2 linked regions of the Homo sapiens genome follow. The protein of the gene in region 2 purifies or fractionates together with the protein of the main gene of each other region. This does not show direct contact. Each region holds a gene or a part of one and is shown on either strand. Other genes may lie near its edges.

Region 1 (3,651 bases), on a different chromosome or scaffold from region 2:
CGAAGTCTGAATAAAAACATGCTCTGAGCAAGAAGTGACATTACCCAGGTTGGAAGAGCTTCGTCACTCTGCCCCTTCCCTACCCAAGACACAGCATGTGTGGGGCTCCTCACCCTGCCCCAACCCTCAGAAGCAGCTGTTCTGGATCCTGCCACGGACAGAAGCCACCTTCGTGCCACGGCTGAGGGTTTAAAGAGGACTCCAGCCAGTGTTGAGATTCCTCTTCCCATTCTCAAAGCCGAGCGATGCCCGCCCGCCACACTCACAGTGCACCAGGATCCATTCCACACCCTTCCCTCCTACAAAACCAACCAATGAAAGGCAAACAGAAGTCCTGTCTCCAAATCAGTACCTTTTCTCCCGTAAGCTTTATCAGATGAGTATTTGAGCAGTTCCTGGACCACATCAGACTCCCGCTCTCCATTCCAAGACACAGGAGGGGCCTGGCTCAGCCCTGCAATCGGAGCAGCCAAGAAACATTTACAGACGTTTAAAATAACCCACTGGGGAAGCAATCGCACACCTTAAATTATAAAACAACTTACAGTAAGTGGATGCTTGCCTTTTTTTTTTTTTTTTTTTTTTTTTTTTAAAGACAGGGTCTCACTATGTTTCCTAGGTTGGTCTCAAACTCCTTGGGACTCCCACTGGCCTCCCAAGGTGCTGGGATTACAGGCATGAGCCATGGCGCCCAGCCTAAATGCTTATTTACTAATGCTTACATGCTTAATTTACTAATGACCTGACACAATAGAGAAGGCTGTTGTCCAAGTCAATTCATGAGAAAGAAAACATGGAAAATAACAAAAAGCTAAAAACCAAAAAAAAAAAAACCCTCCAAAACCCCTTTAACCAGTAGTGTTAAGTCCTCAGTCTGACAGAAGGAGAGAAGAGAACTAGATCTAAATGGAATCCACCTCACCTACGGGAGAGGCCCATGCCCCAGGACCAGCCTGACACCTGGATGGCCACAGGGGTGGAGGGAACGGCCAAGCTTGGCTGCTGCCATCAGGGGCCCGACCTCCTAAGCCCTGTCCAGGGGGAACCTGGTCCCCATCAGCAACACCGCACAGGTCCACCCAGCACCTCGGGACCAGGACAGCACTCACCACCCTCATCGGGTTCTAGAAACCCTTTCTGAACTCGTCCTCTGCCCAGCTAGCCACATAGCCCCTGGAATATACTCACCTCCCTTCACACAAATCTGACCTCATTTCTCCCTGCCTCCAATTCCTCAGTGAGCTCCAGGCTAAGTGTCCCCTGCCCCCACACAGTGGCTTCCATGGTTCCCATCTCATCCACACAGCCCAGGGACCCGGCCATGCAGAGCAGCCTGCCTGCTCCCAACGTGCTGCGCCTCCTGCCCTTGGGTCTGGTGCCCTGCCCATTTAGCCACTCTCCTCAGGTGCACAGGACTGCAAGAGCCCATGCGGCCCCCAGCGCCTCCTTGCTGAGCATGAGCCCTTACTGTGTGGTTCTGGCTCTGCCAGGGAGCCCCGAGGGCCCAGGGCGCACTTCAGTAGACACAACCAGCACCTGGCATGGACCCTGGCGCACCGCAAGTGCTCAAGTGATGTCCCTTGCACTAACAAGCCAACTCCACTTCGCTCCGAGGGTGGCACGGAGCACAGCTCTGGTGCCATGTTAGGGCAGTATTTTTTTTTTTTTTTTTTTTTTTTTGAGACGGAGTCTCACTCTGTCACCCAGGCTGGAGTGCAGTGGCGCAATCTCGGCTCACTGCAAGCTCCGCCTCCTGGGTTCACACCATTCTCCTGCCTCAGCCTCCCGAGTAGCTGGGACTAGAGGCGCCCGCCACCATGCCTGGCTAACTTTTTGTATTTTTAGTAGAGACGGGGTTTCACCGTGTCAGCCAGGATGGTCTCGATCTCCTAACCTTGTGATCCGCCCGCCTCGGCCTCCCAAAGTGTTGGGATTACAGGCGTGAGCCACCACCCCCGGCCAGGGCAGTACTTCTGAGAGCATGCTGGCCAGCAAACTCAGTCGGCACTAGCTAGCACCCACGTTTTGCTATTTATTTCATACCATTTCATTTTTAACGATAAATTCCTTTCTTAAGAGTTGGATAAATACAAATCAGTCTCTAAGGTCCTGCTGACCCCCAGATGCACTGCCATAATCAGACCTTCCAGACTGCAGAGGAGGCCTCACTCAAGCTCGGCCCCCTATACCAAGCAGCCAGGACTTTCTCTCCCCTTCACTTAACAAATGTGTTCTGTGGCGGGTGCCTGCCAAGGCATGCCCCAGCCAGCCCTAAAGAAAACAAAACACCCTCCGATTGAGGGGTGGTGCCCAAGGACAGCCACAGCACACAGGTCCCCAACAGCAAGCAAACCGTGCTATGTTCTGAATGGCCCAGCTACATAGAGGGAGAGGAGGATTCACTTTTGAACCCAACTCTTCTAAATTCAACCATCACAGAAAAAAACTCAGGCTGGGAGTTCAGGGAGTCATTCCGTGAGAAGCTGTAGACAGAACAGCTTTGAATCGGAAGACCCACTGGCATTCACAGAATGTTTTAAAGTTCATGTGCACTGTAACCTCTCTCATGGGGCTGTTTCAGTCAAATGCTGTGACACATGAGGAAGCTTCAACCCCATCACCCAAGGGAGCAGACTCGGGGGTGGGGGGTGAAGGTTGGTAGGGTCCCAGGGCCCTCCACATCTTCTCCCAGACCCTCCCAAGCTCAGATGCAGTAGACGCTGCTCTCAGCCTGTGCACTCCCCAATACCCCCTCACCCGGTGCACACCCACGCGGTCCCCCACCCCCTTGCCCGGTGCACACCCACGCGGTCCCCCAACCCCTCGCCTGGTGCACACCCACGCGGTCCCCCACCCCCTCGCCCGGTGCACACCCACGCGGTCCAACCCCTCGCCCAGTGCACGCCCATGCGGTCCCCCAACCCCTCGCCCGGTGCACACCCATGCGGTCCCCCAACCCCTCGCCCGGTGCACACCCATGCGGTTCCCACCCCCTCGCCCGGTGCATACCCATGCGGTCCCCAGGACACCAGCCATTCGCGGATGGTGCGCAGCTGCTGGACTCGGGGACAACAGCATCTTGGGGCTTGGCACTCCTTGGGCATTTGAGATGCCCATCCTCTTCTACTGCCCGCTGTGTCTCCTGCTTTCTTTTTTTCTTTTTCTTTTTCCTTGGAGACTCTTCCATGGCCTCTGGATCACCATCACCCATGGGAGAGCAGCTGCTTGGAAGTGAGAGGCAGCAGTCAGCTCTGAGCAAATTGGAAGGGGAGCAGGAGCGCACAGACACCCGCCTGCAACATGGAGAAGGTGCCACCCCAGCTGTGACCCAGTGCACGCAGGTCCCTGCAACATTCTTCCCCCCACACGCATTAGCGGACGCTCCACACGCAGCCACGGAGACAGTAGAGGGAAAACCAGTCGCGTTTCCCATCCTAACTGAGCCAAGCCTGTTGACGCCAATGTGCAGGCTACTGTGACCTGATGAAACGGCAGATCCTGGCCTGGCCCGGGACACCTGATCCAGCATCCTTGAACGGCCCTGCACATACAATGATGGACACTACTGTCCACACCACTGTCGCTTCAAGGATCAATCCACTGGTATTTATCAGAGGAGATATTTTTTCTTTTTTCTTTTTTTTTAGACAG
Region 2 (3,651 bases):
ACTTATGATGACATTGAAAATAAAGTCGTTGCAGATCTAGGATGTGGTTGTGGAGTACTTAGCATCGGAACTGCAATGTTAGGAGCAGGGTACGTAATGCAATATATGCTATTTGGGTATTGGGTGGCTTTAATAAGGAGCATCAATGGGATTAACTGAATTATATTTATGAGACTCCACAGAATGAGATATAGGGAGCAAAAATCTGATACTGAATACATTTTGAATGGGCAGAAGATCTAAACAAACTACAAAAATTAAATAAAAATGGTGAAAGCAGCAGTTCCTTTTATACAAACCTGAGTTTCCAACCCCTGCCGGGTTTGGAAATTATGCTGTTACACTTGACTGGGCACAGTGGCTCATGCCTGTAATCCCAACACTTTGGGAGGCCAAGGTGGACAGATTACTTGAGCCCAGGAGTTTGAGACCAGCCTGGGCAACATGGTGAAATCCCATGTCTACAAAAAATACAAAAATTAGCTGGATGTGGTGGTGTGCGCCTGTGGTCCCAGCTACTTGGGAGGCTGAGGTGGGAGGATTGCTTGAGCAGTGCAAGATGGCACCACTACACTCACCTGGGTGGCACAGCAAGATCCTGTCTGAAAAAAGAAAAAAAAAAAGAAGAAAACACTCACTCTTACTTTGCTAATTGGGTTAAAAAGATATATGGTTTAAAAAAAAAACAGCTAATTTTGGTTTTGTTTTTACTTGGGAGCTATAAGTCGCCACTCTTTGTATGTGTTTTGTATTTATAGGTTGTGTGTTGGATTTGACATAGATGAAGACGCATTGGAAATATTTAATAGGAATGCAGAAGAGTTTGAGTTAACAAATATTGACATGGTTCAATGTGATGTGTGCTTATTATCTAACAGAATGTCCAAGTCATTCGATACAGTAATTATGAATCCTCCCTTTGGGACCAAAAATAATAAAGGTTTGTAACAAGAATCGGGTATATTGGTATATTTATAGAAAAGATTTTAAAACCATTTTTAAGGCCAGGCGCAGTGGCTCAGGCGTGTAATGCCAGTGCTTTGCGAGGCTGATACAGGAGGATCATTTGGGGCCAGGAATTGGTAGCCATCCCGGGCAACATAGTTAGACCCTGCCTCTACCCACACACACACACACACACACACAAATTTTAATTTCCCAAGTGTGGTGGTGCACCTATAGTCCTAGCTACTCAGAAGGTTGAGGTGGGAGGATCACCTGAGCTCAGGTATTCGGGGCTGCGATGAGCCATGAATGTGCCACTGCACTCCAGCCTTGGTAACAGCAAGACCCTGTCTAGAAAAAATTAAACAAAAATAAAAACCATTTTTATCACTGTTTGGGCTAAGTGATTTTATCACTCTTCATTAAATAAACCAAGGCTAAGTGATGTTATTACTCTTCATTAAGTAAACCAATCTCTTATTTGTATAGTTCTTATAATTTACATTTCAATTTGTTTAATGCATGGCTAAGAAACTGAGTTTTTCAACTTTCATTTTTACAAATTTGTATTAAGTAAACAAAGATAGTCATGTCATTTATTGTATATCTCCCATTTGCTTTCAGGAATAATTTGCCTAACCCTTATGAATGAATACGAAACATAGAAAGAATTTTATACTTTCAGAATCTGTTTTTTAATGTCTTAACAGACCCAAGGGTTTCTACATGTGCCCATCAGTAACAGTGACTCACCGTGGCTGTTAATTTTGTGTGTACTGTGGGCAAGGAGGTTAGGAAGTCAGTGAGGGTAGGAAAAGACATGCATAGTTTGGCCGGGCGTGGTGGCTCACGCCTATAATCCCAGCACTTTGGAGGCTGAGGTGGGTGGATTACCTGAGGTCGGGAGTTTGAGACCAGCCTGACCAACATGGAGAAACCCCGTCTCTACTAAAAATACAAAATGAGCCAGGCATGGTGGCACATGCCTGTAATCCCAGCCACTAGGGAGGCTGAGGCAGGAGAATCACTTGAATCCGGGAGGCGGAGGTTGCGGTGAGCTGAGATCATGCTATTGCACTCCAGCCTGGGCAACAAGAGCGAAACAAAAAAAAAAAAGACATGCATAGTTTAAAAAGTACCCTGCCCCCACCAAGATGATTCTGAATAGTACTCTATGCATTTCCTTCTCCCCTTTTTGAAGTCATTAATGTTGGAATATAATATTAAAATTTTTACTTTATCCTTATTTAACCAAGACAGTATAATTCTGGTTTTATTCTACCAGCCTTAAAATAATATTTTGATAGTTTATTTGTACCCTTATTGCTAAAAGATTTCAAGGTGGCTATTTTGAAGTTTGGAAGAAAATATTTCTAAATCCTACTAACTTAATCTTCTGTTTTGAGAAGAGGTAAATAGGAGCTTTTTTTCTACTCTTCACAGGGACAGATATGGCTTTTCTAAAGACTGCTTTGGAAATGGCAAGAACAGCAGTATATTCCTTACACAAATCCTCAACTAGAGAAGTAAGTTCAAATCATCTGATATTCTGTGGCATTGATTTTTAAATTCATGACAGTGTTTTTAGGATTTGCTGTGAATACTAGATACCACAGTATCTATTTCTCCTGACCATTTTGACATGTGAAACTTAAATTTTCCACTTAACCAGCTAGCATCTGATTGGCCTTTTTCCAGGCTATAAGACTTATTTCCTCAAAGATTTTTTTCAGACAGGAACTGTTGCCAGAGGAGAGACTATAACTCAGGAGTAGAAAAGTGTGTTGTAACTAGGATTACTGTATGTTTTGGTTTCTCTGAGTAAGTCTTAGTTGATCCCTTTTGTCCCATTGTCCCGGTGTGGCCTGATGTACTTAAGGGAGGCAGTAAGGCCAGGTTTTCAGAACACTTGAGCCTGGAGCTAAACAGATCTGAGTTCAGAAATCACCTATTCTTACTTTTGCAGCATATAACACATGGAGAGGTGTATAAGTTGTAGTCCAGGAAACTGGGGGAAGGGGCAGTACATTTTTTTAGTGTCAGTATAACACAATAGTTAGGAACAGAGATTCTGAAGCCAGACCAGATTCTCTGGGTTCAGATCCAAGTTCTGCTGCCTCCCAGCTGTTTTCTTGGTCAAGGTAATTGAGTTTCATCATCAAGGTAATTGAGCTTTTGTCATCTATACTATCCTCACCTGTACTCTAAGTGTAAGGGACTGAGAGTACCAATTGTACTTCATAAGAATTGTGAGGATTACATGAGTTAATATTTACAAAGCACTTAGATCAGTGTCTGACATGTGTAATTGCTATGTGTTAGCTATTATTATTTAAATCATACATGTATTCAAAGATTTTAAAGTGCTTTTGTAGGAAAAATACTTAATTCATGTAAATACAGTACGTAAGAACCCAGTTGGAAATAATACATTCTAGTTACATGGTAATGTGATAACCTTTTAAAAAGCATAAAATATAACAGCTAAAAAGAACTATACTGCTAATAATAAGTAGTGGTACATGTAGGCAAGCAACAGGACACAACATAGCTAGTAAATAAATCCTCACTCACTATATATGAAAGCAAACACCAGTAAACATTGGTATCCAAACCTGTGTCCCCAAGAACACCCTCAGGTTTGATGATTCACTAGGAAATCTCACAGGACTCAGCATCTAGTCTTATTCATGGCTATGATGTATT

Evidence for each region. Proteins that work in one complex are often made in the same cells at the same time.
Region 1: the proteins of METTL5 (region 2) and USP36 purify together in Homo sapiens (affinity purification with mass spectrometry, with the first as the bait; one study listed by BioGRID). This does not show direct contact.

What each region holds. Positions count from the first base shown.
Region 1 is NC_000017.11:78,799,315-78,802,965, forward strand, and holds part of USP36 (ubiquitin carboxyl-terminal hydrolase 36), read right to left. Parts: intron 3,542-3,651; coding exon of another isoform or gene 3,222-3,541; coding exon 3,010-3,221; intron 455-3,009; coding exon 353-454; intron 1-352. UniProt on the Homo sapiens protein: Deubiquitinase essential for the regulation of nucleolar structure and function. Required for cell and organism viability.
Region 2 is NC_000002.12:169,818,381-169,822,031, reverse strand, and holds part of METTL5 (rRNA N(6)-adenosine-methyltransferase METTL5), read left to right. Parts: coding exon 1-89; intron 90-758; coding exon 759-940; intron 941-2,388; coding exon 2,389-2,471; intron 2,472-3,651. UniProt on the Homo sapiens protein: Catalytic subunit of a heterodimer with TRMT112, which specifically methylates the 6th position of adenine in position 1832 of 18S rRNA.